Regions from separate parts of the Homo sapiens genome. Here regions 2, 3 and 4 are each linked to region 1. The links come from fine-mapping of genetic effects on gene expression. A gene starts in region 1. Each other region holds a variant in brackets. All regions are shown on one strand. Distances are between the middles of the regions.

The links.
Region 2: its variant is fine-mapped to the expression of MKLN1 in whole blood (TOPMed, PIP 0.98).
Region 3: its variant is fine-mapped to the expression of MKLN1 in thyroid (GTEx, PIP above 0.99).
Region 4: its variant is fine-mapped to the expression of MKLN1 in whole blood (TOPMed, PIP above 0.99).

Annotation. Positions count from the first base shown.
Region 1 is chr7:131,324,203-131,332,308 of GRCh38, reverse strand. It overlaps MKLN1 (muskelin 1), which reads right to left and starts at 4,433. Exons shown (of 18, transcript NM_013255.5): 1 at 4,312-4,433. The coding sequence starts at 4,409. It overlaps MKLN1-AS (MKLN1 antisense RNA), which reads left to right and starts at 4,530. Exons shown (of 6, transcript NR_125364.1): 1 at 4,530-4,694; 2 at 5,374-5,503; 3 at 7,884-8,006. RefSeq lists enhancers at 3,515-4,091, 4,098-4,397, 4,092-4,668 and a silencer at 4,448-4,607.
Region 2 is chr7:130,881,003-130,889,108 of GRCh38, reverse strand. It overlaps LINC-PINT (long intergenic non-protein coding RNA, p53 induced transcript), which reads left to right. Exons shown (of 8, transcript NR_170176.1): 7 at 4,713-4,792; 8 at 6,373-8,106. Among named protein-coding and RNA genes, the nearest start is that of MIR29B1, 7.5 kb to the right of the region's middle. RefSeq lists an enhancer at 1,433-2,632. The variant T/C (reference allele first, on the strand shown) is at 4,585.
Region 3 is chr7:131,281,467-131,289,572 of GRCh38, reverse strand. It overlaps a transcript of MKLN1 not described here. Among named protein-coding and RNA genes, the nearest start is that of MKLN1-AS, 42 kb to the left of the region's middle. The variant G/A (reference allele first, on the strand shown) is at 4,561.
Region 4 is chr7:131,492,450-131,500,555 of GRCh38, reverse strand. It overlaps MKLN1 (muskelin 1), which reads right to left. Exons shown (of 18, transcript NM_013255.5): 18 at 3,924-8,106. It overlaps PODXL (podocalyxin like), which reads left to right. Exons shown (of 9, transcript NM_001018111.3): 9 at 1-285. Among named protein-coding and RNA genes, the nearest start is that of PODXL, 60 kb to the left of the region's middle. The variant G/A (reference allele first, on the strand shown) is at 4,397.

The DNA.
Region 1 (8,106 bases):
TGTAATAAAAATATATAAATATTTATATATTTTTTTTCTTTTGTAGAGATGGGGTATGTTTCCCAGGCTGGTCTCAAACTCCTGGTCTCAAGTGATGGTCCTGCCTCAGCCTCCCAAAGTGCTAGGATTACAGGCATGAGCCACCGTGCCTAGCCTATATTCATTTTTAAATGTGAAATTTTAAAATTAGTTTTGAAAAGAGTTGAAATAAATTCACCTTCTATTCTAGTTGTCAAATCATAACACTTGTACTCTGAACCATGAATCAATCACATGTTGACACAAGGTACTATTTTAAGTACTATTTGATTTTAAGTAATAAGACTAACAGGAAAAAGGTAAACACACTTAAAAATCTATCAGATTTTATCATCTAAATTATCTAAGTCATTCAATAATATGTAAACAAGATAAGAATCATTCTATACCAATGAAATTACCTAATATGTAAAAAATACTTTCAAAGTTTCTCCCAGTTCTCATATGAGTATACTAAAATCTTAAACATCAAGATAAAATCTATTTTTCCCTCTCTTGCTGTTCTAACCTTAGAGCGCTTATCTGTAATCTCAATTAGACATATACAATAGCCATGTATAATAATGAACAGCTTTCGTAACAGAAGTCAAAAGGCCCAATATGAGAACCTTATCACCTACATTTTCTTCCTCCTCATCATTATTATTATTGCAGATGGGGTCTCATTGTGTTGCCCATGCTGGTCTCAAACTCCTGGGCACAAGTGATCCTCCTGCCTTGGCCTCCCAAAGTGCAGGGATTACAGGTGTGAGCCACCCTGCCCTGCCCCTCTTACATTTTCAACTCTTAGACCTGGGCAAGTTAACTTACCTCCCTAAATCTCACTTTTCCTAGCTCTAAAATAGAATAATAATATTTATCTCATAGGGTTTTTGTGAAGACTATTATATCAAAGAACACATGCTAAATGCTCAGTACAGTGCCTGAAGAATAGAAAGTACTCAATAAGTGGTGACTGTTATTAAAGTCACAATGCAATAGTTTTTAAGTCAGAAAACCTGGCAAGCCTCTGGAAAACTATATGACCCTGGGCAAGCTACTTACCCTGTATGGACCTCAGTTTCATCCTCCACAAAACATATATAAAATACCTATCTTACAGGTATGTACCAAGAATTAAACAAAACTGTATACAAAAAGCATCTTGCATATATTAGGTGCTCACTAAATTGTAACTAGCATCATTATTAGATACAAAAATAAACATTTGAGTACAGGGATTAGCAGTTTACAAAATATTTTTATGTATAAGAGTATATGTAATTTTATGAATTATTTAAATAAGTGTATTTAATTATTAAATTAGGTGTAAATTTCAGAAAAAAAGTAAAATACAGGCAATCTCTAAGCACACAAAAATAAAAGGCCTTTTTTTAGTCTCAAAGTAAAAATGTGTTCCCTATAACTGAATCTGCTTTAACATTTTTAAAGTCCAAATAAATTAAAAAGAGTTGAAAGGGGAAATATTTGTTTTTTCTGCCTCTGGAAGAAGGGGAAAAGAATTCTAAGTCCTTAGAAAGAAAATAGAGATAAAATTGTTCAATTTTTTTTAATGACTTCACATTTCTTTACACAACTAAAATGTAAGTGCCTTTAATACAAGAGCTCTTTTAAAGTTCTGATTTCCTGTACTATATATACCTTTGTGCAGAAGCAGTAAAACACTATAGTTAAAGACCACAGACTGTGGAGCCTGACTACCTTGATTCAAATTCTGGTTCCATCTAGCTGTGTGACCTTAGGCAAGTTTAAACTTCTCCCTACCTGCTTCCAACATCTGGCAAACGGAGATTCCTCTTGGGATTGCGGTAAGGATTAAATGAGTTGATACACTTAAAAATGTTCATAAGAGAGCCTAGCAAATGGACGGCACATCATAAATGTTTACCATTTTTGTTACTGATTTATTACTGCCACCTCGAAATGCTTAGATCTATGCCAACAAATATTTGCCACTTTGTGGACAATTTCAACAAATGTCTTTAACCTAAAATGAGACCTGTTTAAGAAGTACCTTAATATGGTTTCCACTGCCAGTAAAGATACAACAATTGCTGCTAGAGGGGATTTTAGGGCAAAGGTAAGTAAAGTCAACCCCTTTCCTACATCTTCTGTCACACAGAGAAGTAATATCCTTGCTTGCTTATAGAAGTTCAGAGCCAAGAGTTTTATAATTTAGGCATGGCACACACCAACCCAGCAGACACAATATTCTCCAACTCCAGCTCCATAATACTCAACTATACTCCTTCAAAGAAAAAAGCTTAGATTACTCTTCTAATACTTTACTTTAAATACAAATTATACTGCATTTGTCAATAGAATGTCATAAGGATTAAACAAGATATAGTAAGTGGAAGTGTATGAAAGTTACGTATGTATTAAATACTATTTTATGTATGTACTTGAGAAAATTGCAGCAATGTATTTCTCCAATCTCAAATTGTTGCTTTCTAACTCCAAAACTAGTGTTCTGCCCACTGCAAACCAGGGGCCAGAGTAACAAGACACAAAAGATTAAAGTTGCCATCCCACTAAATCATTTCCTGCTTGAAATGTACTTTCTTAAAATGTCTATACAACAGATAACGCGGATGGTACTTGTGTTATCCAAGCCTCAGGCCTACATCAAAAATTTAAGGAGTGACGTCCTGGAAATACGCTAATTCAAGACCAGAAAAATGTCTCTACAGTTAGATCAAACAATGCCACACCAATTCCCAACTGTCCATAATCCTAGCCTGGGTATAGAAAAAAGCTGAATAACTTCAGATCCAAGAACAAGATAGCCCAGAATATCAGAGGTCAAGTACATAGGGCCACATTTCAACTCCAACTACATGGCTGGACTGTTTATCTGGCTCACTCTCAAATTCAAAGTTGGGTTTCAGCATCAATCAGGGATATGGCCATGAATAGGCTACGCAGGCCAGATCAAACCACAGGTCACTTGGCACCCTTCATTGGGCCAGATCCTACTGAATGCCAACCCTTGACCTGGTGAATAAAATGGGAGGCTGGCAGTCATGACAGATTCTTCCAGTTGCAGCTCCATTTTGAGATTCTTCATTGATATAACCAGTGAAATCAAATTTGGATAAATGTGAAGAATTTCTCAAATACAGATGGAAAACTTACTTGAGTATGCTTCACAGATCTAGTCACTTTTTTGTTTAGTAAAATACTCAGTAAAATATATTATTCATTAATTTGTTTCGTTCATAAAATCGTTTCGGTCCTGTGAGATGGTTAGAGGGACAACTAGCACTTTTCTTCAGGATCTGCACAGATCTTAACCCTTTACTAAGCCAGTTCCTCCACTAGCATGTAAAATTGGAGTTAGATCTGCTCCTCCTTTCAAAGATAAGCCAAAGATAAATAAGATACTATGTAAGAGTATTTTCAGCATTTCAGAAGGAATTTGCTAGAGAAAAAAACACCACCAACAAAAACCTAACAATGCAACTGAATTTTTTTAACACCTAAATCAGGGATCAAGACAAAGCCGGTGTTGAAAATCAAATTCATTAAAGCCAGATGTTTCTATGTTTGAGTTTCCGGACTGGGAAACGTGTCTGTGTCCATACAAACCCATCTTCTAATGAGCCGTAATACTGAAATTCTTCGGTAACGTCCCTCCTTCCCACTCCCTATCTTTTTCAGAACTTCCAGGCATTAAAGACAACGTCTGCCAATCCTACAAGTTCTCCCCGCCTGCTAGGATTCAGATGGATTCCACAACTTTTCAGCCTTCCGTGACTTTTAACACTACTCTAGAGCTAATCACTTTTAATGACCCCACTCTGGAATAGACACTCCTCGGCTTTACACTTTGTCCCGGCAGCAATCGACTGAACTGTCCCCCGACGCCGACCACCTCGGACGACCTCAGACATTCGGGGTAGTTTGCCCGCGGGCAGGGCCCCGCCAACTCCGATTCCTGCCCCAGAGCCGTCCGCCCCCCAAGCCCTCCTCAACCTCAACCCCCAAATCCCAAGCGCAGAACCGCTGGGCTTCCGGTTCTCCTGTGCGCGCCCCGGATCCGCCACACACCTCGCCCCTTCTCCCTGGGCTCGCTCTCCGGACCCTAACCCCTTCCCGAGCGAGGCCGAGCAACGCTCTCAGCAGCTGAACTAAGACTCCGGAGGCCGCACGTCCCCCTCAGCAGGCCCCGCCTGGGCCTCTCGGCTCGGCTGCCCTCCATTGCACCCCTGGCCCAACCGTGCTGACGCGGAAGGGTGGGGCAGCACGAGCTCAAGGCCCGGCACTTACTCGGGAAGGTAGGTGGAGGAAAAGGAGCTCCACTTGTGTAGCGCGTAGGGGAGAAGCCGGCACTCGGGCGCCGCAGCGACAGCTCCGCCAGCCGCCATCTTGTCAGCACCGTAGCGGCCGCCACCGACCGCTGGCAGCGAACGGGAGGAGGGGAGGGGGCGTGGCCTGCTCTTAAAGGGGCCGCCGCCCTCCCCGGCCGCCCGCGCTCCCCGCCCCGCATCGTTACCCGAGCCCAGCGCCGGGCCAATGTCCTATCTCAGGGTTTCCCACGTCGCTCGCTCCTTGACGGCTGACCGACACTGGGTCTGAGGTGTAAGCGCTTTCCAGGCCCTTCCCTGGGGCTTGGAGGGGAATGGCGCAAAGGACTTTTCTTACAAGCAGAGGTAAGGAAAAGCCGAGATGATTACGAACAGAAACACGTTGTAGTTATGGAGCAGGAAGGGAAAATAAGAAGACCAAGTTGGAAAAGGGACGCCTGTGCGCTTTTGGAAGCCACCGCCCTCGCCAGTTTATAAGTCCTTTACGGAAACAACACTGAAGGGAGCTGGAGGGCAGTAGCTAATGTGCTGTCCTCCTGGAGTGGTCCTGGTTTTAAATGTCTTGTCCCCGCCTTCCAGAGTCAGATGGAGACAGGAAAAGGAAATGGTCCCGTGTCCTCCTACCCTGTTTGGTTTGCAGTCTGTGATGCCCTTCATTGTAAACATTTCTTGTGAGCCGCATCCTACTAATCTTGTGGCATTGGTTTGCTCGGGAATGACGTTCACCCACAGACCTGAAAAGTCCTTACAGAGTTGGGAAGCTGCGTGTCATCATTTTTTCAGTTGGCAAATCTGCCCACTTTGAACTGACATAATTGTAGCCTAAAAGTTCAGAGAGAGAGTAGTTCAGGAAAAAGACTATTCCTTCTTCTTAGAGGGAACAGCAGCCCTGAAAACTATGTGGACATCATACCAGCTTCTTACAACAAAAGGTGCACTTGGTCTAAATTATCTGGCAGCTCTAGATAACGTTCTCATCAAGTACCTGTTTGTTGTAGTTATGCATATTTATTCCTTGGCTTAGCCACTGCAGTTACCAAAGAGTATGTCGCTTATTGTCTAAGAGGTTGGACTCCTGAAAGCCTGGACAGTGTCATCATCTTCACCTGAAGAGTGGAAAAATTCAAGCAAAGAGTTTCTCAGGAAATGACCAAGTGAGTCAAAACACCTCAATAATTGTATTCTCTTCCCGTTGTAATCATTAACCTGCCGAAATTCCCTCCAGTCCTTTCCTGACTTCCTGTTTCTATAGATGGAAATTTTAATAGTGGGCTCTACTAGGATATCAAATCAAAAAAGCCAGATAGAAAGGCCAGGCCCGGCACGGTGGCTCACACCTGTAATCCCAGCACGTTGGGAGGCTGAGGTGGGTGGATCACCTGAGGTCAGGAGTTCGAAACCAGCGTGGCCAACATGGTGAAACCCCGTCTCTACTAAAAATACAAAAGTTAGCTGCGTGTGGTGACATACACCTATAATCTCAGCTACTTGGGAGGCCGAGGCACAAGAATCACTTGAACCCAGGAGGCAGAGGTTGCAGTGAGCCAAGATCACACCACTGCACTCCAGCCTGGGCAACAGAGTGAAATTCTGTCTCAGAAAAACAAATAAAATACAATAAAATAAAAAATTACATGTGCTTTCTGTGTTGCAGCAGGTTGGAAAAGCATGTGTTCCTTAAGGGAATGCTGTAACTGTAGTGACTTGGGTCGGGAGCTGCCAGAGACAGTGGGAAAGGGCCAGAGAATGTTAGCCCCAGAGATGATATAGTGGTTATCTTTGAAGAAAATAGACACTTTAAAGGGGAGGAATTAACTCACTCCAATTCCTTTGGGCCCCAGATTTTATAATTCCACTTCTTACCTTAATGTAAGTCAAGTCCTTGTTCTTTTCCAGACATAGTTCCTGAGCAATCTTTTTTAAAAACACATGTTAATTAGTTCTTCTTAAGCTTAAATCCTTTTGGTGACTTTCAATACCCTTCTAAACTGTTTAACAGAGGCCCTTCATAACCTGCCTTGATTTTTCTCTCCAGCTTCCTCACCACCACCCCCCCCCCACTTTTCTCCTTTGCGCTTTTGACATCTGCCCACTAACTAGCACACTGAATTTGTTCCCATAGAGTCCTTGTTCTCTCTAGCCTCCGGAGCTTGCTCTAAGCCAGGCATGGAATATTCTTTCCCATTCTTTACCTGGCTAACTCCAGCTCATCCTGTAGACTGTTTGGTCCTGGAAATTTTTTTGGTTTTTTTTTTTTGAGACAGAATCTCACTCTGACTCTGTCACCCAGGATGGAGTGCAGTCACATGAACATGACTCACTGCAGCCTTGACCTCCTGGGTTTAAAGGATCATGCTGCCTCAGCCTCCCATGTAGGTGGGACCACAGGCAGACATCACCACACCAAGCTACTTTTTAAATTTTTTTGTAGACACAGGGTTTCACTCTGTTGCCCAGGCTGGTCTTGAACTCCTGGGCTCAAGCGATCCTCCTGCCTCGGCCTGGCCTCCCAAAGTGCTGGGATTACAGGTATGAGCCACTGCGTCTGGCCGAAAATCTTTCTTCAACACCTGCTCTGGGATTAGGTGACAGTTTTCTTCATTTTTTTTTTCCTATGCAAGCTAACACAGGATAGGTAACATTTTTTACATTTCTCTTAGCACTCTAAGTTTCCCTCTTTATCTTAGCACACATCACAATATATTTTAATTTTCTCTTTTTTCCCCTTTCTTTCTCTCTAAATGATAGCTCCCATGAAGATAAGAGTCATACATATCTTGTTCACAGTTGTATCCTCAGTCCTGTTGATGTGTCTAGCAAATAAAGATGTTCAGTAAATATTTATCAAAGAGTGAATGAATAATGCTAAAAGAGAACTTTAATTAGAGACTTCTGAGTTGCAAAGGAAAAAAAAAATGCCAGCACTTCTCAGACTACAAACGTGTATCCCTGAGGTATAATTGCTACTCAGAAGGTAAAGACCCAGGATAGCATGGCTTTCCTGCATCACAAATTTTATAAATGGTAAAATAATTTAAAGCATTCCTATGTTAACATACAGACAGCTATATTATGATACCAAGACGAAAATTTGTTTAAATGTTAAGAAAAGAACTTTATCTGAGGAATGCAAATCCTTTTAAATTATGAGGCCCAGAGAGGCATTAAAGTGAAACAGCAATCCTGTCCTTCTCCCCCACTTTTGAACTGTGTATTTGTCTCTTGAAACTGCTTACTATTGCCACAGAAGCTAAACATTAACCTACTAATTAATGCTGCACCAGACATTATAACCCTCATCCTATAGTTTCATAATGTATAGCCAATCAGTAGCTTGATTTATTTTAATGTAAATTCTTGGTAAATAACTCAGGCACTGCCTCATCTTTCCCTTTAAAAATCCACTTGTAACTGCTGCTACTCAGAGTGTATATTCAAGGCAACCTGAATCTATGTTCCCAGGTTGCAGTCATCAAGCTTGGCCCAAATAAACTCCCAACTTATATTAATTTTGCCTCCGCTTCTTCCTTTTAGGTAAAACATCTGGAGTAAGTCAGCAGGATTCACAGTGACTCCCCCCAACCAGCTGGTGGTGTTTCTCTCTGAAAGCAGCGCTTGGTACCAGTGTGAACTCTCTTCCTTCAGAAGTCTCATCAGGTGTTTCAGATGAGTTCTCCGGAATTTGGACCTCCTACTCTTGGGTTGAAGGTCTAGACTTTATTTGGGCTGTTTTTCAAACCCTTTCTTTAAGTGTGAG
Region 2 (8,106 bases), 440 kb after region 1:
GATTTTTTTTCTTCTCTGCTTTATATTTGTTTAAAAAAGCATGATCCAGCAAATGCATCAAATTAAAGCTGTGGGTACAGTTCTCCTAACAGAAAATCACACAGTAAGCTGGGACAATGGAACAGAAAGCAGTGGGTATTGTTTTCTTCTTAAGATTTTTATATTCACATTGGATGAGAATGTCTCCTAACCCTCCCCTTGCTGTTGTTCTTGGAATGGGTACCTTATTCATGGCCTCCTTACATAGAGGGAGCAGATTCAGGACAGAGGCTCTGCATGCTCCTGGGTCCCTCCTAAGCGAGCACTCCCCTCCACTGCTCCTCCTGTTCGGCATGCTAGATTTTCTGTGCACTTGCAGTCATACGGAAACTGGCTTCCTTCTTAGCTGTGCGTGTGAAAGTCACCCCAGTGTTTCACCTGCAGTGTGAGTGTAATTTGGGGTCCCATGACATGATCATCTTCCTTTTGATTTCTAAAGCTAGGGTCAGGGAAGGGGACTCGTTTTGAGCCAAAGGGCATTTTAAGGGCATCATTTCATATGTTCACTGTCTGCAGCCAACACTGCACTCTAGACAAATGGGTACCTTTATGTCCCATTTATTAAGACATCCTGCAAAAGGGGCTCCTGGCCCCTGTGGGAAGCTTGAAAGGAACAGACCATATCCTGTTTCTTTTTGCTCATACCTCTGTGGTGAGATCTTATTCTGACCCCATAGTCTGGTGCCATACCTGTGGGTCCCTGTATCTCCTAGAATTCCCCCTATGCTAGTGTTTAGCCCGTGTAATGACAGTTATCTGTCCACAGGGCTGTATCCCCCGCCAGCTTGTAAACTCCATGAAGACCGGCCCTGCGTCTCACTCACTCCTGTCCACAGCAGTGCCTCCCACATGTTAGGTCTTAACAAACATCTGTTTCTTCTACTCTTCATAAAATCCACGCTTCTTCTCACCCCCCCGTCATCCCTGATCCCAGCTAACTTTGACCCTGTGTGCGGGGGCGGGGGATCTACATGTGGGCTCCACCCCCGCACGCCTGCTGCCCTGTCATCTCTGATCCCTGGCGGTGGGATGTCTACCATGGCTCTGCCCAATCCCCCACTGTCTTCACCCCTGCCACATCTGGCATGATTTTACCGTCCCCTTCCTAGAGTTCTCCCTTTCTCCCCTGCCCAGGCTGCACCCCTGGAGAGCCCAGCTCAGGCCCCTGGCCCCTATGAAGCCTCTCCTGAATAATCCATCAGCCTGCCCTGAGCTCATCCAGTCTCCAATGACGATTGTGCTCTCCACCAGCAGGACACACCGGAGCACTTTCTCTGTCCCTGAGAATTGGACTCCATTCCACAGTTAGGTCCTGGGTCACATACAGACATTTCACATCCCCTCCTCAGTATTCCCCAGCAGCGTGCAGCACAGTGCGGGCTTCTAGGAGGCAGTCGGTGGATATTTACCCATGATTTTAAGAGGTCTGTCTTGACCAGGAATGTTGAGAAGTGACCTGTGTCTCTGCAGCATTGCTGCTAGTTAGTCCCTCGTGGAAGAAGTGGCATGTCCCTCCTGTGTCTGGCTCACGGGGACCGGCGCCTCCTGTGTTTGCCCCCGCCATGCCCTGTGGTTTCCTTTGACACCCTCTGTCATTGTCTATTTTTATGTTTTAAACTTCAGTGGGATTTACCTCTCGTTTGCTCCCATATCCTCCTGGTAAATTGTAAACTTGGTGAATCAATGATGAGTAATCAGTAGGCAGAAATGGTTGGAATTTCCTGGTCCCAGTTTCAGATCATATCTGTCTTTCCCCAGACTCCTAACTTCCTGTTGGGACATCCCTTGGTCTGGCCTTTCCCTCCAGAGAAGCCCCCAGACCCACCCGCAGCCTTGATTTACTGATGCCTAATCTTATTTTAGTCTTTCACACCAGTTTTTAACAACTCGACTGTATAGATCTTCTGGAAATTTTACCCAAAAATGTTAGATGTGCCATCCCCTCACAGGGGAAAGTGGTGGGGTGGTGGGGGTTAATGTGTTGAAAATCTATGTATCTTGTATTTTATTTGAGTCAGCTGTGTTTTCACAACAACTCTGAGAGTTAACATCATTTCTACTTTATAAATTAAAAAAACAAAACAAAAACAAAAAACTAAAGCCCCAAAAGGATTGAATAGCTTGCCAAGGCTGTGTAACAAGTGAAATTTGAATCCGGGTCTGTATGATCCCAAAGCTTAAGCTGCCCGTCTTTCTATTCCCAGTTCAAACGTGCCTTGAAATGGGAGCTCACTTGATAGTACTTGGCTTTTAAAAGGCTACGTACATGTAAGTACCTTCACTCAAATATGCTGGGGCTCAGTAGGAGAAGCAAAGAGAAGGAAAAGGTATTGATTGATCGATTTGATTCTAAGCAGAGATTGACAGAGATAAGCTTCTAAGACCTTTCAGGCCCCAGAGTGTGACTGTTGAGCACCTAAGAAGACCTCACTTGACCCGTGACTTCCCGCCAGAGCCTTGGGAAGCCCATGAGTGCAGCGTGCTCGCCGGCTGGGCTGGAACTTGCTGCTCTTCTCTGCAGTGGCAGGCTGGCTTCTGCCCCTAGACTGGAACTGCCAAGGGCTGCTATAGAAGGGACAAACTTCCAGTGCTCACTGAGGAGCCAGGGGTATCCTGGGAAGCTGAAAATGCATTTGTCAAGCTCAGGTCTTCACAATTGAGAAACCCCATCACTAACCCGTACGGTTTTCTTGACCAAAACTTTCAGTGCTCTGTTTTTCCCATCTGTAAATAATGTTCATACATCTAAATCCTAGGAGGTTGCAGGGACAGTGGCTTAGAAAGTCACCACATTCTCTAAAGGAGTGACAGAGAGGATGAAAGAAGCATGCTCTATAATTAGGTTTTATTACATGCTTTTTAAGGTTAATTGAAGGACTTCCCAGCAGCTTCCCTAGCCACTTTTTCAAATACTGAAAGCTTCCAGAAAGCAGCAGACAGGTGTTCCTCACAATCTGACACAGACTTCAGTTACTGTTGAAAAGTGAAAGAGGGCTGGGCGCGGTGGCTCACACCTATAATCCCAACACTTTGGGAGGCCGAGGTGGGCGGATCACCTGAGGTCAGGAGGTCAAGACCAGCGTGGCCAACATGGCAAAACCCCATCTCTACTAAAAATACAAAAATTAGCTGGGTGTAGTGGCACACGCCTAAAACTCCAGCTACTTGGGAGGCTGAGGCATGAGAAAAAATCGCTCGAACCCAGGAGGCGGAGGTTACAATGAGTCAAGATCATGCCACTGCACTCCAGCCTGGGTGACAGAGTGAGACTATCTCACAAAAAAAAAAAAAAAAAGAAAAAAATGAAAGAGCTCCTGTCTGACGTTGGTTTTCTATACCCATTTTTATAATCAGACAATTTTGGAAACATGCTATTATGATAGTGTTTAAATATTCCAGAATTCTGTGTGTTCGGTAGCTTCACGTTGGTTTGATTGTTGTTTTACCCCACTGCCTCTTCCTTCCCATCTGTACTTCTCAGCTTGATTTTTTAGATGTATTTTCTGTTGTAGGACAGTATCAAATGGCTTTTTCTGACCATTTATTTTACTGGCCGAGCTCCTCTTGGATTTTAATCTCAACTCTCAAGAATCTTCCCAACATAATCTGTTCCTGTTGTGATATCATCTTTCTTGAGAGCTTCCCAGTCACTGAAGAGCATGTTCAGTAGCACCTGGCTTAAAGAGTCCACCTGCGAATCACAAATCATTGTCTTCACCATTCAGCTCCGACCCACACATCTGGGCAACATCATCCCCACTGGCCAGTAAGCACGGGGAATGCTCTGTGGCCTCAGCTGTGTTCTGGTTCCTCGGTGGAGCTGTAATCATTAACTTAGAAATTGCAATTGGTGGTAACTTAACAGAGCTTTCTTCATCAGACTGCTGAGTCATGCAGCCTCTTGCTGGGTAAAATGTGTCTTGAGATGTAATCCCCTATAAGGACACCCCCTTGGAGCCACTGTGAAGGCACTCCCAGCTTCCCTAGCAGGTCGCATCAGGGGGACGACTGAAGGATTTACTTGAACAATCAGTTTTCAGAAATGAAGACCCTACGACCTTGGCTTCCTCTCTTGTGATGCAGCTGAAAGATGCATTTCGTCTGTAAAGTTAGACCAGGTAGGAGAGAATGTGAGGTGGTTTCCATTCTTCTCAGTTGCCCTCCACCTGATTCTGAAGCCGTCACAGACCGTCCTTGCAGACCGGCGCTCCCCTCCACAAACCTTCTGCAGCCTGTACTGCTACAGCACGAGGCTGCAGAATCAGTTGTGAAAATAGAAGCCTTCTACCGTCTCCTGTGCGGGATCCTTGCCTGCCTTTCTTCTGTGATGGGATCTATAGGCTTAGACTGTGTTTTATTTCCTAAGACACCTTGCTGAGCAAACCTTGCTGCTCTGCCTCGTGTCAGCGGTTTCCTTAGCAACGGCCACACCTCACGTTTTCTCCCGCACAGAGCACCAGCATGAGGGGGCATGTGTTGCTCACTGTACAGGAACTTTCCCAACCTGTGTGTCTTAAGCAGGAAAGAGAAGGTGCTTTCTATTTC[T/C]TGTTTTTAAAAATGCATCTGTTGGTGACACTGGTGGAGAAACATGTTTACGAGAAAACAACTGACTTTTTCTTCTGCTGTTACTCCAGGAGATTTCCTAGGAGCTCATACTGTCATTTAAATTCCAGGTGCAGGTCTTCTGAACAAATGCCTCCTGAGGATTTCTGTGCCTGGAAAATATCTGTTAACAGACTGCTTTTACACCTACGTAAGTAGAGGCTTCTGCTTATAAGTCAACCTCAAGGGAGTTTTATTTTGTCCCTGGATGATTCCTCAGTACATTTTTCTTTTTCTTTTTTGAGGTAGGGTTTTGCTCTGTTGCCCAGGCTGGAGTACAGTGGTGTGATCACAACTCACTGCGGCCTCAACCTCCCAGGCTCAAGCGATCCTCCCACCTCAGCCTCCCAAGTAGCTGGGACCACAGGCGTGTACCACCCACGCCTGGCTAGTTTTTTAAAATTTCTTTTGTAGAGGCAGAGTCTCCCTGTGTTGCCCTGGTTTCAAACTTGGGCCAAGTGATTCTCTGCCCCAGCCTCTCAAAGTGCTGGGATTACAGGTGTGAGCCACCGTGCCTGACAAGCCTGATATGTTTTTTTAAATGATCATTAGTATTTGATCTCTACTCTTTTTCTCTCAACCACCCAACTCCCGGTTTACGGTCAGGAAGAATCTATAACATGAACTCCTGCTTAAAAACAAGGGTATAGATCCCATATTCAGGTCTTAGACTGGGAAGAAGAGAAGGCAGTCAAAAATATTAAATATATGAATTTCAGTAAATTCAGTTGGGGATGCCATTTCAGCTTTGCAGTCAGTTACTCCAGAATATGTCAATGTATGGCAAAGCATGTGACAGCAGGATCTCTGCACCCTCTCCATTTACCAGCTGTGGTGGATCTCTTAGCCACATCTCTGTTTATAATGTGCTTATTGAAAACTAATGTATTACTTTTATTATCATAGCTACCATTTACTGAATATTTACATTGTGCTAACACTGGTTCAGATGGCTTCATCATATTTACCTGATTTAATCCTCACAACAACCTTATGTGCTAGGTCCAGTTATTACCATCTTTTTTTTTTTTTGAGACGGAGTCTCACTCTGTCGCCAGGCTGGAGTGCAGTGGCGCGATTTCGTCTCACTGCTGCAACCTCCGCCTCCCAGGTTCAAGTGATTCTCCTGCCTCAGCCTCCCAGGTAGCTGGGACTACAGGCACATGCCACCACGCCCAGCTAATTTTTGTATTTTTATAGAGACGAGACTTCACCATGTTGGCCAGGATGATCTCAATCTCTTGACCTCGTGATCCGCCCATCACAGCCTCCAAAAGTGCTGGGATTACAGGCGTGAGCCACCGCACCCGGCCTATTACCCTCATTTTACAGATGAGGAGACTGAGGCACAGAGAGTTAAAGTGATTTGTGCAGGGTTGTGTGAGGAGCTGGTGGCAGAGCTTGGCATTCTGGCTCTGGAGTCTGCATTTGGCCATCTCACCGTACAGTGTCATAGAAACAGGAAACTCGAGAAGATAAACTGCCAGGCTGTATTTTGGAGTCAGTATTTTAACACTGTCACCATCTCAAGCATGATCTGTGGGACTCATCACTGTGCTCTTTGACTTGAACTTCTTTAAGGTTAGTGGGAAAATGAAGCTTTAGAGAAGATGGGACTGGCCTAAGGTCACACTGCATGTCAGAAGTGTGGTGGAGGGTCCAGGTCTTCTGACCATTCAGTGCAAGCCAAATTGTGCTAATTTCCAATTTTTCTCCCTTTCTCTTGGTGAGCTATTTGGTGCTACTTCTACTCCTCATGACCAAAGCTGGCTTTCATGGTTTACTCATGTACTTACTGATGAAACCCTGAGACTTGGGGCCAGTGACTGTTCAGAGGTCCATGTGAAGATGCGCTGAATGGTATAAAGGACAGAGCAGTAAAGAGTGCTGGCTGAATGCCTGGGCTGGCAATCAGGCATGTTGGAGTTTGAGTCCCAGTCTGCCACTCCAGCTCTGTGACCAAGAGGAAGTGAAGTCATGTACCCTTTCTAAGTCTCTAGCCCCTCTTCTGAAAGACGAAGATGCCACCACCAACCATGTTAGTGGTTGTGAATGCCAAGAAAGTCCATGTGAAGCACATAGCATAGTGTCTGCCATGCGTTAAGTGTTCCAAAAATGGAAGCTATGACTATTTCACAGAGTACACTTCCCATCACTTTTCAGTTCATTTTGGCCTTCTCCCTCAAAAGCACTCCAGTGTTCTGATCCAGCTGATAAAACACCAAACATTCACATAGTGCTTTAAAAGTGACCCACTGTTTTTACAGACTGCATTACATATGACCCTAACAACCACTGCAATATAGAAATTCGCATCTCCATTCTCCAGATCAGGATACCGAAGCTCAGAAAAATTAAATGATTTGCCCAGGATCACATAGTTAGTAAGCAGCCCAGCCAGATCCTGTGTTAACTTGTTCATCCGCTTCCTATAAGAAAACATCCATTCAAGGCACATGGGGCAACAAAGAAGGACTTAGAGCTGTGTGGCCCCTCGTCAGGGCAGTACCAGTTGCACCCATAGTCCGGCCTGAATACTCAGCTTAGGACTATTGTGTCCAATGTCCCAAACATTTTGAAGCTACATCTTAAAGAAGTGTCCTGCTCAGATGCAGTTCTCCTTGTGAAATCCGCAGGCCCCAAGGAAAGTGACTTTAATCCAGTTTGCTCATGCAAGAACAGACTGGCATTTCACATCCAGGAAAACAATGGATTTGTACTGTTCAGCTTTTGCCATGCAAGGAGTTCCTGGTGTGGTTTATTAATTTACATCTCAGGCTCCAGCTTCACTATCAATCAGATTTGGAAGAAAAAAGTTACAAAGAAAGGCAGCTTGCTGAGAAACAGCGGAAGCATGACGGTACAGACTGGGTTTTGAAATGGAGACACATTCTCATGGCTTGTGGGCTGAGAGACACTGAGAAAGGATTTTGTTCTTGAAAGATGATTGTTTTAATGCTGGAGATGGAGAGTTTTGACAATTTTAAGTGCATGTTCTGTGTGTAAGAAAGAGTCATTACGTTTTTTTTTTCTTTCAGATGTTGCCATGCCTTAAAATTGCTGATGATTAAAATAGAACATCCTGAGTTACAGAAATTCAGCCCTAGTGTATCCTGGCCTAAAAATACAGAACAATCAAGTTGATTGTTGGAAATGAGAGGCTAGGCAGGGTTGGAAACATGCTAATGTTTACTGAGTGAAATCTTTCCTTCTCAGTAGAGTTGCCCTTGCAGCTGAAAGTCACTGAAAGACTCAACAAAATAAGCAGATCCCACTTGTCTCACTCTGTTCTCCTATGCATGCCCTGGAAAGAGAATGAATGAGCCCTTTTTAATTTATCAACTGGTTTTCTTCCATCTCTTTACTAGTGAGCCATGGGGGTTTTTTGCCGTTAACTGGGTAGCCAGTCTCTTCATGGAGACTTATTTTCAGGAAACTAGCCTCTTGCTTTATGTGAAAACAAGG
Region 3 (8,106 bases), 43 kb after region 1:
CTGTGCTGCTTCCTGGTAGTAAGAGATAAGAAACAAGTGGGTACTAGATCCTGTAGCTTATTAAAGTCCATTGGTAAGGATTTGCGGTTGGGGTTGTTTTTTCATTTTTTGTAGAGATGAGGTCTCGCTATGTTGGCCAGGCTGGTCTCAAACTCCTGGCCTCAAGGGATCCTCCCGCCTTGGTCTCCCAAAGTGCTGGGACCACAGGCGTGAGCCACCACACCTGGCTACTTGTAGGTTTTAATAACCATCCTTCCCCACTTCCTGCAAGTGTCATCATGTCTGCCACACCCATAAACCCCCTTCTAGGTTTCTAATAGACAGGACACCAAATTACGTAACAATTTATTCTGCCATTCCAAACAAAGCCATTTAGGCCAGGGGTGGGGACACCTGATCTAGGGCATCAGACCTATGCTCATGAGATGGTTTGTCAAGAAGGCTTTGATAGCCGGGCATGATGGACATGCCTGTAATACCAGCACTTTGGGAGGCTGAGGTGGAAGGATTGCCTGAGCCCAGGAGTTCAAGACTAGCCTGGGCAACACAGTGAGACCCCCATTTACTTCTACTTTAAAAAAATAATTTTTTTTTTTAAAAGAAGGCTCTGCCTAACCACCTGCACTTGATGGTGAACAGCCAAACTAGGCAGATTCTTTTGTTGAGTTGAATATGAAATACAAAGAGAGAGTCAGCAGTTAGAAATGGGCAGAAACTAAAAGATACACAGAGAGAAGGAAGAAAGCTGAGGTCATGTGGCAGCAAAAAGCATGCAGCAATAGAAGCTGTGAGATGAGAAAAGAATAGAAAGTACTGAACAGCAAGGGCAGTGGAGAGTCACAATACTAGCAGATAATTAGAGTGCAAAGCAACAGATACTGACTACTGAAGGGCCCACAAGATAACCCAGTTGCTAGGGCGGCACTGTGTGCTGAATCACCTTCCCACTCCTCGTTGCCAGAGTGTGGCAGAGAAGGACATGGGGCTTGTATTAGTCTTAAGCTTAGACTGAGGTAACCTGAGTATATCTCTCCGTTCTGAAAATTAAATTTTTGCTTCTTGGAATCTCTATCACTCAAGATCATGGCACAAAACTGAAGGCACATTGCGCTGGGATTTTGAAAATCATTTGATGAAATTGATATTTACAAGGATGTAGGGAGGGTGGTGGGAACTTAAGCGGATACTGAGGCACCCAAGGTCGAGTAGCAGTAGAAGTCCAGGCCTGAAGAGAAACAGTTTATCAGAGTCCAGAAAGAGCTAGAACTGTGAAGGGGCATACCTAATGCCAAACCCATGGCGCTAAAGCAGGGAGGAAAGGAGAAGAAATATCTCAACCTCTTTTGCCTCCTACCCTCTGATACTTGCTGATGCCTGCCATTGGACAAACCCAACAGTAAGCCAGAGGGCACTGGCTCCCAGGGGACGAAATCTGTGGGGTAACATCCTTGTCGGGAACAGAGTGTGGCAGAGAAGGACATGGGGCTTGTATTAATCCACTGTCACACTGCTATAATTTAAAGATACTACTGGAACCTGGGCAATTTATAAAGGAAAGAGGTTTAATTGACTCACCGTTCCACATGGCTGGGGAGGCCTCAGGAAACTTACAATCATGGCAGAAGGCAAAGGGGAAACAAGGACCTTCTTCACATGGCGTCAGGAGAGAGAAAAGTAAGAAGCAAAGGGGGAAGAGCCCCTTATAAAACCATCAGATCTCATGAGAACTCACTCACTATCACGAGAACAGCATGGGGGGAACCTCCCCCATGATCCAATCACCTCCCACTGGTCTTTCCCTAAACATGTGGGGATTATGGGGATTAAAATTCAAGATGAGATTTGGGTGGGGACACAAAGCCTAACCATATCAGGGCTATAATGGGTTGAATGATATTCTCCTCCCCCTCCCCCGCCAACAAAACATGCCCACAGCCGAATCTCTGGAACCTGGGAATATTACATTACATGGCAAAATATGTGATTAAGTTCAGGAGGACCTTATCCTGAGAGGAGGACCTTATCCTAGATCACTGTGGTAGGCCCTAAATGCAATCACATGTATCCTTATAAGAGAGAAGCAGAAACTTTAAGAGATAAAAGGAGGAGGCAATGTGACCTCAGAGGAGTGGCCACAAGCCAAGGAAGGCCTGGGGCCCCCAGACGCTGGAAGAAGCAAGGAGAAGATTCTCCCCCAGAGCTTTCAGGAGTGTGGCCTTGCCAACACTTGATTTCAGACTTCTGTCCTCCGGAACTGTGAGAAAATAAAATTCTGTTGTTTTAACCTATCCAGTTTGTAGTAATTTGTTACGGCAGTCACAGAAAACCAGGACAGGAGCCAGATGGAGAATAACCAGCACAAAACCTGTTCATCTCAGATGGGACAGGAGGATATACCTGATCACTTTAGCTGGACATTCTTTTGCCTGCCTTTTATATTCCCTTTGGTACTTTTTGTTTTGTTTTGAGACAGGGTTTCATTTCACTCTGTTACCCAGATTGGAGTGCAATGGCACGATTGTGGCTCACTGCAGCCTCAATCTTTAGGGCTCAATCGATCCTCCCATCTCAGCCTCCCAAGAAGCTGGGCCACAGGTGTGCACCACTACTTCCAGCTAATTTTTTTAAAAGTATATATGGGGCCTTGTTATGTTTCCCAGGCTGGTCTCAAACTCCTGGCCTCAAGCCATCCACCCATCTTGGCCTTCCAAAGTGCTGGGATTACAGGTGTGAGCCACCGTGCCTGGCCCATTGGGGCTCCTTTTGGGACCACTCATATGCCTCAAACTATATGCTCCTGAGTTGTAGTTCTTTTGTTATATAAATATTGTTTTATCCAAATAAGATTATGACATTCTTATTCGAAACAAGAACCTTGTCTTGTACATCTTTGTAGCCCATAAAAATCTTAGCACAGTACTTTAAACAGAGTGGACATTCTGTAATTGGTAAATGAGAAAGAAACCTTCCATTTGTCCATCTGTAAATGGAAAATAACAATTTCTACTGACTTGCCTCTCAGAGATAATGATGGCAGTGCTTCCTGGAAACAATTTTTTGTACCTGTAACAGAATGATATATCTGAAACACCCATTCCTACTGAGGCAATTCCTTGGGGGAGGAAAAAAAAACAAAGCTACATTTACTTTTAGCATGTCCTCCATTCCACGTGCAGATGAAACTGCTTGCAGATCACCCCACAAAGGAAAAGGCAGGGGATAATTAAGAAAATATAAGAGCTGAGGACTGATATCTTCTTAGGAACTTTGATTCATTCAATAAACATTTATCAAAGAACTACTATGTTAAAATATAGTCCATTGGCCAGGCGCAGTGGCTCACACCTGTAATCCCAGCACTTTGAGAGGCCAAGGCAGACAGATCACTTGAGATCAGGAGTTCGAGACCAGCCTGGCCAACATGGTGAAACCCTGTCTCTACTAAAAATACAAAATTAGTCCGGCGTGATAACGCATGCCTGTAATCCCAGCTCCTTGGGAGGTGGAGGCACGAGAATCGCTTGAACCCGGGAGACGAAGGTTGCAGTGAGACGGCGCCACTGCACTCCAGCCTGGGCGACAGAGTGAAACTGTGTCTCAAAAAAAAAAAAAAAAGTCCATAGATGCTGAGGAAACACACGCAGAGAATAAGGCATGATCCCAAGTCAGTAATTGTCACGCAATATGATGAATGGTTTTTATAAGAGCAAAATGCTATGGGGCCAGAAAAAAGGGAATGACTAACTATTGATGGGAGTTTCACCAAAAAAACTCACAATCAAGCTGGTCTCTTAAGACTGCATCAGGCAGAGGTGAAGTCAAGGGCATTCCAGGACCAAGAGAAACAGCTTTGCCTGAGCTGTTGCCAAGCAAACCACACCCTCAGCTCAGCCCTATTGTATCTACAGAGGCCTATTTTTATTCTTTATCCTCATCGCTACTTTTTAAGAGAAGAAAAGAATGCTGACTTCTTCCCTAATTTGCATCCATGTATTTTATATGCCAAAGAAAGGTGATTGTCAGGAGGGAAAATAGAAGTTGACTTTCGGCAAGTCCAATTACGACAGGTCCTCACATCCATCTGATAATAAGTTAACATGGAAACGCTTACCTTTGCTGAGCTTCTACCTCATTTCGGAAAATTGGGTTAGGCTATCCTGTGAATGCAGTACCAGGGGGAAAGTGGACAAGGTATGAGCGCATCCCGTGTCTCATTGCCCCACACCAGGAGGTTCATCTTTGGCAAACACTCCTTGAATGGGAATTATGGCTGAGGCCCTTTTTCCTCCCCTAGGCTGACCTTCACATCACTCCTCAGGGAACAACTCTGCCTAGGGCACCGCCCAGCTTCCCTCCCAGGCCAGCCCTGCTAGGCCTCTGAGACCAGAGCCGTGCTGCTTATGAGTGGAAGAAAGGAGAAAAAACTCTTAGGACAGCAGCCAGGAGAGAATGAAAGACTGGCCAAACCCACCAAGGAGCAAACGGTTCCCCATCCTCACCCTGCAGCTTCTGCTGGAAAAGCGGGGAGGCTGGGGAACCGGAATCTCAGCCTCAGAGTAC[G/A]CATCACTTATCCTTGTTTTCTCAAGAAGCCTCTACCTTCCAGGCCCTGCCAGGAAGCTGGCAGCATTTTCCTGAAGCAGTAATAACAAGGACAGAGCGTTCTAGCCTGCTGGAGCCTGCTGGCTGGTCACTCTTTCCACTGCCTTTTGTTTTCATGCATCATTCCCCTCACTTGCTTCTCAGATTCCTCAGGGCTTTGAAAAAGCCACAAATGCTCCACACAGTGACACCACCCAGCGGGCTGGCAGACATAGCTGACAGGCACCTTGCCCTAAGCGACCGCACGTATGCAAGCCCTGACAGCTGATACCCAGCCACACACCTGGTGAGAGGGAAGGCAGCACTTAGAAAGGGCCCACCCTATTCACGTAGCTGGCAAAGGTAGGGCTTTAGATCAACTACAGCCCAGTGCACTGGTAAATCACAGACCGCTTTTTTATTCAAAGTGTATCTGTATGTTGGACAGTGGTACTTCCCCACCCTTTCCTCAAACATCTAAATCCAGCCAACATAGATGCTACCAACAGAGCACCAGAGTAACCTCAGCGTGACAATCCACATATCAATATATTAGATCATATACACATGCATACTTGGAGCAGACTTAACTTTATTTGTGTTTTAGAACCACCTGTAGCCTATTTCAAACCACACTCCAGAGTGAACCTATCAGAATCTATGAAAATAGGGCTTAGATATGTGTATTTTTAAAAAACTTGACAGCGTTGGTTAGAATGTGGGACAAGACAAATTCTTGTATATCATTGATGAGATATATAACAATTGGTTCAGCTGCTGTGGACAGTAAGCTGGAAGGCAATCTAGTCAAGTCGGAAGTGCGCATATCCTATTCCCTAGCAATTTTTGTTCTAGATATATTCCCTAGAACTCTCACACATGTGTTCAAGGAGACGTACACCAGGGCATGATTTACATCATGATTTGGAATAGCAAAAAACTGGCCATAACAAATATCCACCCACAGGAGAATAGATTCTAGAACATTTACACAATGGAGCACTACATTGCAGTATTATATAATATAATGTTATGTTATATAGAATGGATTAGCTCTACAAGTACCACAGATAAATCTCCAAATCACAATGTTGAGAAAAAAAGCTACAGAAAAAAATATGTACACTATTTACATACAGGTTTAAACATGCAAAACTTGCCTATTGTGTAGTAAAACTATAAAAACATGTGGGAAGGACACTCACAGTCTTCAACAGATTGGTTACCTCTGGAGAGAGTTGAAATGAAAGGGCCTTCTCGGCCGGGCACAATGGCACACGCCTGTTATCCCAGCATTTTTGGGAGGCCAAGATGCGCAGACAGCTTCAGCCCAGGAGTTCTAGACCAGCCTGAGCAACATCATGAAACCCTGTTTCTACAAAAAATACAAAAATTAGCCAGCTGTGGTGGTGCATGCCTGTAGTCCCAGCTACTCGGGAGGCTGAGGTGGGAGGATCACCTGAGCCCAGGAGGTCAAGGCTGCAGTGAGCTGTGAGTGCACCAGTGTACTCCAGCCTGTTTTGGGCAACAGAGTGAGATGCTGTCTCAAAAAAAAAAAAAAAGAGAAGAAAGAAAGCAGTAAAGAGAGAGAGAGGAAGGAAGGAAGGAAGGAAGGAAGGAAGGAAGGAAGGAAGGAAGGAAGGAAGGAGGGGAAGGGAAGGGAAGGAGGGAGGGAGGGAGGGAGGGAGGGAAGGGCCTTCTCTTGTAACTAGAAGGTTTTATCATGGCAAGCCGTTATTATTTATTAAATCTGGATAATGAGTCCATATCCCACAGGTAACTCTGAGGGTCATGGCCATCGACAGCGGAAGGATCTTTTGAGATTCTTAGATTCTCAGTTACAGAAAATAAAAGTTTGATCTGTATAATGAGCCATCCCCATAAACATAAATGACACTGAAGAGCCCTCTCAGTAACGTATGCAGATTGAGATGCTGTTCATGAACGGAGGAGCTGTTGCACAGGCCCAATTCCCCTCCCTTACTAGGTGCCCGTGTGACCTGCTGGCCTTGTGAGCATCCTAAACAGAGTCAGAGCTGCAGTGGAATGAAGATGAGGATTGGTCCACGTGTGGAAATCATGACTATAGTCATATCCAGAAATTTCCAAACCTGGCTGAAAATCAGATAAAACTTTTAATGCAGTTGTCCATGCCCCACCATCTGAGAATATGATACAATAGGTCTGACATGAGACTCTGGAATCTGTATATTTAAAAGGCTTGCCAAGAGATTCTGATGATCGCCAGGTTTGAGAAATGATAACCAACCATGGTTATATTCTATTAATGTTTTCAAAGAAGATGGGTAGGAAGAGAAAAGGGAGAAAAGGAAATAAGAAAATTAAAGAAGGAAGGGGAGAAAGAAGGAAGGGAAGGAGGTGAGCCTTCGAACCCAGCTCAGATCCCTCCTCCTCTATTTCTCCTAGACCTCTATAGCCTCCACGTCCCTCCTCATCCCCTGAACTTGCTAGATCTCTAATCATCTGGTAACATTCATTTGGCAATTATGTACTTCCCTGTATGTTGCTGTCAAGGGCTACTGTTTAATCAATAAGTTTATGTCTTACTTTTTGAATTAGGCTATAAGCTTCTTCAGGACAAAGACCATGTTTTCTTCATCTTTCTTTTTTTTTTTTTTTTTTTTGAGACGGAGTTTCACTCTTGTTGCCCAGGCTGGAGTGCAATGGCACTATCTCGGCTCACCACAACCTCCGCCTCCCGGGTTCAAGCGATTCTCCTGCCTCAGCCTCCCAAGTAGCTGGGATTACAGGCATGCGCCACCATGCCCAGCTAATTTTGTATTTTTAGTAGAGATGAAGTTTCTCCATGTTGGTCAGGCTGGTCTCAAACTCCCAAACTCAGGTAATCCACCCGCCTTGGCCTCCCAAAGTGCTGGGATTACAGGCATGAGCCACCATGCCCAGCCCATCTTTTTATTTCTAGTGTCTAACATGATGCCTCCCACAGAGTAAGCAGTAAAGCACCATGATAAGAGTATAAGATAAAACAGGCTCAGAAATGTGGCAGTGGCTGGGCATGGTGGCTGTAATCCCAGCACTCTGGGAGGCTGAGGTGGGAGGACGCTTGAGGCCAGGAGTTCAAGGCCAGCCTGGGCAACATAGTGAGACCCCCATCTTTGCAAAAAATTTAGAAATTAGCTGAGTGTGCATGTGTAGTCCTAGCCACTCACAAGACTGAGATGGGATGATTGCTGAGCTCACAAGTTGGAGGTTGCAGTGAGCTATGATCATGCCACTGCGCTCCACCCTGGGTGACAGAGCAAGACTGTAAACAAAAAAAAAAAGAAAAGAAATATGGCAGGATACAAGATCAATAAACAAAAATCAATTGTATTTCTATACACTAGCAATGAATAATCCTGAAAAATGAAATCCAATGCAATCTCCATCAAAATCCCAACTTTTTTTTTATTTTACAGAAATTGACAAGCTGATCATGCTATTCACATGGAAATACAACCCAAAATAGCCAAAACAATCTTGAAGAGGAAGAACAAAGTTGGAAGA
Region 4 (8,106 bases), 170 kb before region 1:
CATAGCTTTTGTCACGGTCACTAGCTGATCCCTCAGGTCTGCTGCAAACACAGCATGGAGGACACAGATGACTCTTTGGTGTTGGTCTTTTTGTCTGCAGTGAATGTTCAACAGTTTGCCCAGGAACTGGGGGATCATATATGTCTTAGTGGACAGGGGTCTGAAGTACACTGGAATTTACTGAGAAACTTGTTTGTAAAAACTATAGTTAATAATTATTGCATTTTCTTACAAAAATATATTTTGGAAAATTGTATACTGTCAATTAAAGTGTTTTTGTGTAAACTGGTTCAAGCTCTAGTAGTTTCCTCGGACTTCTTAAAGCCTTCACTTGTGTATGAGGCTCATCGCCAAAGTGCCTGAGAATGTCGGCTCACACCCGTAGCACAGGAGCCTCCGTGCTGAGTTACACTTGTCCAACTCTGCAGGCAAAGAAATTAGGCAAGAGAAGGAGAGAAACCGGAAGAAAAAAAAAGGGGGATCCTAAAGGTGGTTATGAGTCTTTATGTTACTCAAGCTATCCTAGTGACTCTAAAGAACCTCACTTTCCCCTAAGATGACGTTGTATGTTTCGCTGTCTTCCTTCCCTCTACTTCTGCCTCAGATACATTGTGAATCACCACTATCAGAAATCCCCAAGAGGGCTGCTGAACATTGATCAGGTATGAAAACACTGGCAAAGAGACTATATATATACATATATATGTGTGTGTGTGTGTGTGTGTGTGTGTGTGTATGTATATATATATATATATATATATATATATATATATATGTAAAAACAAAGCTCTGTTCTGGCCCTGTTTCTGCCATAAAAGGATCTGTTTACTGCCACAAGAGGCTTCTGCCTATCCCTCCTCCAGGTCTGCAGTGAAGATAGATAGCGGTTTAAGGAAGGAATCACTGGAGATGATTCTTTCTTCATCTCCTAGTGTGGTATTATCCACAGCTGCATGCTTCTTCATCGGAAGGGGTAAACTTCATCATTCCAAACTTGCAGAAGGGAAACTGTCAGGTAGAACTGGTCCATAATCTTAGTTGCTAGACAACAATCTTGTCTACTTGCCTAGCATCTTACCATTTACAAACCATTTTATAGGAAACCTATAGGTTTACAAACCTATCTTATAGGAATTGTCCCCACTAGGGAAATTAGATGCAGGAGTTAAGTATTCTCTTTGAGATTGATCACACAACCATTTAAATGGCAGCATGGGCCTTGATTCTCTTTTTGCTCTTTAGTCCTACACTCTTTTCTCAGTATCACGTTAATGCCAGAGTTCCAACAACAGCAAAATACATTTCTAGAATGCAACTACTGTTACAACATGATTTTCCTTCCATGAAAGTTGTTGTGAAAAGCAGTTAAACCCTGAAGAGAGGTCTAGAGTTGGGCCCGGGTAATTTTGAGGTTAGCTTCGAGAGGGTGCCAAGGATACAGAAAGGAGTCCAAGTACAAGGAACTCACACAGGACCCTGGCCATGGTCGAGGTGCACTGTTCTAAGAGTGACCCACAGCTTATTGTGGGCCACAAGTTAGACCTAAGATCCCATTCTCTTTCTGAGTAGGTCATTCACCCTGATCCCTGCCTGCCAACCAAGACACACGCTCAGTTGTCAATTTAAATGTGTTATGCTCATTTGTCACTCAGAACCTTCCCTATAAGCTCCCTCCCAAATCACAGATTTCTTCTGTACCACAAGGGAAAAAAGTAAATAAAGAATAGAACTGGCTACATAATTAACACTAGTGATAAACACTGAGATATCTATTGCTTTCAAAGACCTTGGTGGGGAATGGTGGCTTATGCCTTTAATCCCAGCACTTTAGGAGGTCAAAGTGGGAGGATAGCTTGAGCTCAGGAATTCGAGGCCAGCCTGGGCAACACAGCCAGATCCCATCTTTACATTTTTTTTTTTTAAATTAGCCAGTTTTGCTGGCACATGCCTGTAGTCCTAGCTACTCAGGATGCTAAGGCAGGATCACTTGAGCCCAGGAGTTGGCGGCTGCAGTAAGCTATGATCACACCACTACACTCCAGCCTGCATGACACAGTGAGACCCTGTCCTAAAAAGAAAATCAATAGGATCCTAGCCAACAAGATCTGCTGCCAGTATTTACTTCACAGAAGAAATGAGGCAGAGAAGTTGTGCAATATTATGCAGAAGTCATTGGTCATCAGGAAATGAAAGCCAGGATTCCCAATTCCTCCTGGACTCTCCATTCTATGTCCCAAGTTTAGAGGGCAGCTGTACAATGCTGCTATGTACATCGCCAAGGGTCCTAACCACCTCTCGGGGTTTGCCAACCATTAAAACTTACGAACGTAGTGCTAGGCAGGCTACTTCTACGTAGTTTCTCCTTATTACAGTTTCTCCTATATTAAGAATCTCTCTGGCAAGGATATGATTGACGGCTGCTGCTTTTGCTGGGTGAAAGCCCACAGGAAAAAAGTCCCCGTAAGACAATAGTGAAGCTGTAGAGTAAGGATGGTGGCATCATCCTCTGCTGCCCCAACTGCCCTATGCCCCAGAAAGCCCAAGTCTCCAGTCCCCTCTTCCTTTTCTCTAAGAATGTAAAAGGCAAAGGAAGATGTAGCATACGTGGTGCTAAAGAAGGAATGTCATCAACCAGGATTTTGACTTACGCCAGAACTGTACAAGCCTCAGATGGTCTTTCCAGTCATATTAATACCTTCAGAATCTGAACAGTTAGTGATAAACCAATGTTGCCTTCATTTACAGGGAAAATAACCCCCCCCACGCCCCCCCCCTCCCCGTTTCTAGGGACTCTGCAGTCGTCATTTATATGAGAAGTTACAGGAGCATGGGCACACAGCCATTTCCCTATTAGATGCTCGGTCATCTTCCTTTGGCGGCAGAAGCTCCTAACGCAGCAACTTCCAAGCTCTGTAGTACAGTCTCCACATGTGCTTGACCTGGGAGCAGCTGGCTCTCATCTGTGTTTAGGGCCAAGCCTTCTTTACTTACTGCTGTCTTCCCACCAGAAGGTAGTGACAAATATATCAAGGGTAGTGTCCTGCATTTTGATCCTTTTGAGTTAATTCTCTGGAGGACTGACCAAGGAAAGGCCGATTCCTTACCTTATCACTGCACCTCATGCTTTCCTGTTTTGAGAACACAAAGAAACGTTACTTAAGGGCCACACTCAAAGGACACCCTAGAAATGAAAGCTCTGCAGTAAGGTTTGGATTATTCAATTTGTAAACTGAGAAAGCATGATCCCTGTTTGGAATAAAATCAGCTGACAATTCACTCCAGAATGCATGATCACAAAGCCACGATGTAAAGCAGACCAGGAGGTGGAAAGGGCAGAGAGGGGATCTCATTACTAAGAGTCCCACCACTCGGCCCCAGTGACCCAGGACTTTTATCTGGCATATTTCTCAGCTTAGTTTTTTCAAGATTTGGCCCATAAAGTGTCTTTCCCCTTTAATGGGGACAGGGATCCAGAATTTTCCCAAACTGCAACACTTCTAGGTTCTCTCCCTTTACTATCTTTTCTACAGTGAATTTTCCATTTCAGTTCAGTCTTTCCTTCTAGTTCCAGCCTGTACAAGCATATCCCCTTTAAAGAGGAACATAAGTCCAAGTGGACAAAGCAAATAAAATAAGGGTGGTCATTAACAGTAGATAGAAGAACATTTCATGAAATAATTTACCAGTGGTCTTTAAATAAGTGGAAGCCTCCCCGCAGAAACTTTGTGAGCATGGCCGGTACTTGTTCATCTGAGCACCGTCTCAAAGGAAAACACCCAAAGGCCCTTCGAAAGCGTATCACTTTCCTTTTGGAAGCCTAAATAAAACTCACCTTTCTGGGGGAAAAAACACAACTGTAAAGTACAAAAACATTTTAAAAGTTCACTTCAAAAGTAGTTTGAGCAAATACAAGAGATATCTTGTAGCATCCATATATAACATTTTATTAAGAAAATGAACAAAATACATTCTTTCTCCATATGTACATTACATACAACATAATTCTACAATTGCCATTTTTAGCAGATCACTCATTTATTTATTCACAAAGTAGAATTAACACATTTACCAAAGCTGGGATCTGAAAATTATTTGTACTATAAGAAAAAAAAAATCCTAAAAAGTCCATACAGATTGGATAAAAGATAAGCCAGAGATCATGAGGGGAATGGGGAAGATTGCAGAACACGACAGAGCCCAACAATGATTTGAAACAATTGATGTCAGAAGAGATCTGATACCCATAAAGCACTTCTGTTTAAAAGCTCCAACCAGCTCATGCCAGCTTTCCAGAGTCCCATGATTTCCATTTAAGACCATGTGGATACTTTAGGATACGGCCCTGACCCCACATTGCCACAGAAGAGGGGGTAAGAGTAGAACCAAACAAGTTAGC[G/A]GTTTTCTCCACACATTGAGTCTCATCTGAAATACTACTGAGGTGCAAAATGTGTGAATCTCAGCTAATGTGCACAGAAATACAATTTTTTTTGAGAGACATTTGCTTAAACGTGGTAAAGAACTCTTGTTTTATGGACTCCTTGCTTCATGTTCATTTTGTCTGTTTTTCTTTTGGCTTTTGACAATAGCTCATCCTTTTTGAGTGTGAGTTTAATTATGGCCATATTAAAAAGTCCATCATAAACAAAGACTCCTCCTCATGGTATGAATATGCTCCATATGCCCATAATGGTGCATAACGGACTTAGAAATTCCAATGAGTCTTAGGGTTGAAATTTCCAATGACCTGAGCAAGGCAGCTCCCTATAGCTTCTGGATAACATTTTACACCCAGAGTTCAGGCTTAAACAGACCTATCAACACAATTATTTTCGGATTGTCTGTCTAGAAAACGGCAATGCTCAAAGGAATATAAATAAGGGTGGGGGGACATATGCTTCCAGCCTGGTCCTTTCTCCATGTGGTAAAAAACAATGGAATGGCTGTGTTAATTTTTTTTTTAATCTTTTCTGGCCTTTACTATGTTTGGTAATGGAAATAAGTCAGGGAAAACAAAATGAACAGGTCTCATCACTTAATTAATACTGGTTTTTCTTCTTTATACTTAGTAATTTCCTAGTTTTTTAAATGATAAACCTATTTTGACAATCACTAACATCAATACATTTTATCGTAAGTCCCATATAAGATATTTAACATTCTCCAACTTTCGGCTCAGCTGGTTACAGCACCACATTTCCAGTCCAGGAGATGTTTTCACAAACAGAAGGAGCGATTCACAGCATTAATAAGCAGACTTGGAAAGACAGATTTTATTGGCTATGGAGGAAGTTGTATCTTTCTTCTCAATCTAATTTTCAGTCCAATTTTGGTTTTGAGAATCTATCTCTATCAGAGGGGATCTTAATTTCTGACTACTGAGTACTTCCAATTTATAAAAGAGCTGACTTTTAAAAAATTCTAACATCTTTCCCAAACTGTTTAGAAATATGCCATATTTGAAAGACGGAATACTGTTTGTTCCCAAGACCAACACAAGAAAAGGAGGTCCTCATCTTCGCTTTCCTGTACTCTTCCTCTGAGGCTAATAACTCAACTGTACATAGCTTTTGGAGTGGGAGCAAGATAAGAATCTCTTTAAAAAGAGCATTTTAAAAATGTATGTGTATGTGTATGTATGTATATTTATAAAGTATGTACGCATAAAGGAATCTGTTCACAGGAAAATGTTACATTATTTTCAACTCTAAATTATGCAGAAGACTATACAAAGTAGTTAATTAATACTATACTATCTACTTTCTTTTCAAAAGACATTTCACACAAATCCAAAAAGTAAGCCGGCTTAAAGAATAAGACAATCATAACACCTCTTGCCCAGGCTAATTGTAATGCTTAGGAAAGGAAGTCCACTTTTATTTTTCTGAACGGATGATTTGTAAGTAAGGAAGAAAATTGTTTACAATTGATCAGTCACCAAAATAATTTTTTTTTCTGGGAAAGGAAAAAAAATCCCAAGAAAAAGATCAGTACATGACTCTTTAATAAATTTATCTTCCCCCACGGAAGACTACTCCTAAGTAACCTTTTGGACTTTGATATCTTATTAAATTTGGGAGTGAGTTGATAATTACTTGGTATTATTTATAACTTGGTATTATTTGAGGCAACACACTACAGCTGTCACTTGCAAACACCTGATGGCATGGCTCTAATGGTGTAGGATCCTCTCCTTTGTTGTAACTGAATTTATAAAGATTTATAAAGCTCTGCCAGTTGCAATGGGATTGGGATTTATTCTACACGCCTCCTCTAATTTAATCAATCACTTTACAGATGTGGAGGAAACCTAAATAAAAAACCAAAATTATGAAATACTTCTAATGCCAAACCCAGATCTCATTATTGCTTGGCAAAGCAGAATTAACAGAGACCCTTGGGATGACATATAATTAATTTAAGGCAAGGAAACTAGTATCAGTTCAATTCTGTGTTACAAGTTATACATGAAATGACAATTTTCCTCCTATGTTAAAGGGCTAGAAAATAAAACCAACCAAATGACATGAGCTAAACTGTAACAAAGGCTTTCTTGAGATTTGTTAACAACGGAGAAATAAAGCTCAAAATTGGCTTTTTGAGTGGCTCCTTATTCATGCACACAGGCTTGTTCAGTATATCACACAGTGTTTCTTCTTCCTGCCAATTAATTTGGCATTCATTAAGTAATGAATGAAACTGAAGAATGATGATCTCCTCAGGCTTTGTGTGGCAGACAGCTCAGATATCTGAGCTAACTGCTGTGACTGCTAGCATCCCAGATGGTACAGAGCTATGTTGCAGCAAGAGCTTAAACTCAGTGAATAAGCAAGGGAGCCCCCAAACTGCATGTTGAAATGTTTTATGGCTGGTTTTCCTGCTGGATCCTTAACAAGGAACTGGTTGTATGTAAGAAGCTGCTCACCTAGTTTAAGATCTAGAGCCCATTAACACTGGATTTTCTGTTTTAAGATCTCAAACAGTTATTTGGAAGAAGGGAAATGCTACTTCCCAAGAAATGCTACTTCCCAAAGACTATTCAGAATTACTGAATATTCTAGAAGCATGAGCTTTGAGGCCTTTTGGTAGTCTTCTTCCCAGCATCTCATTAACAAAATTATTTTAGGGTTAGAAATGAAGAAATTTATTTTTCCTTTCGATTTGTGGACCTCTAAAATCCATAAGCAAAAAGCTCCTATTTTTCCTTCTCTAACATACCCTCATTGTCTTCTCTAGCTCGTTCCTGAAGTTTAATACTTCCAAGTCAAAATGCCTTAGATAAGCAAAATAGGACTTTGCACACAAATGTTTAATAGTTCACTGAGGCTGTCTGAAAAGCAGATAAAAAGGAAGACATTATTTTATAATTAAAAGTGATACCTTAGAACTGGTCCAATTCCCTACCAAACATTTCCCCTTTTTTGCCATTGATCCTACAGCTTTCAGACAACATTCATGTTAAATTCTGTTTTCCAGCAAGCTCAGCAGTGTTTGGGGATAGACAGCACATTGCAAATCTTATTTCCAAATAATGATTCTAATTAAGAAGATAAACTAGGACTACCCTTTCATTTTTGTGTTTTTAAGCTGTTAAGTGGGATCCAGTTCACAATATAAAACTTTAGCCAAAAAGACAGTGATAATTTCCCCGATGGCATTTCTCTCTGCACCACTAGAGAAACTAATTTACTATAACCTCTAATGACTCCTTAGGTTAAGGGCTACAGAAGCTACCGTCAGATGATTTCATTGGCTATGACTGGCCTAAGAGTTAGTCATTTGGAATTGGAGCTAAATTCACATTCTTTTTTTTTTTTTTTTTTTGAGACAGGGTCTTGCTCTGTTGCCCAGGCTGGAGTGCAGTGTCGCAATCATAGCTCACTGCACCCCAAACTCCTGGGTTCAAGTGATCCTCCCACCTCAGCCTCCCAAGTAGCTGGGACTACAGGCACATACCACCACACCTGGCTAAAAAACAAAAATATTTTAAGTAGAGATGGAGTCTTCCTGTGTTGCCCAGGCTGGTCTGAAATTCCTGGGCTCAAGCAATCTTCCCGTGTCAGCCTCCCAAAGGTCTGGGATTACAGGCGTGAGTCACTATGCCCAGCC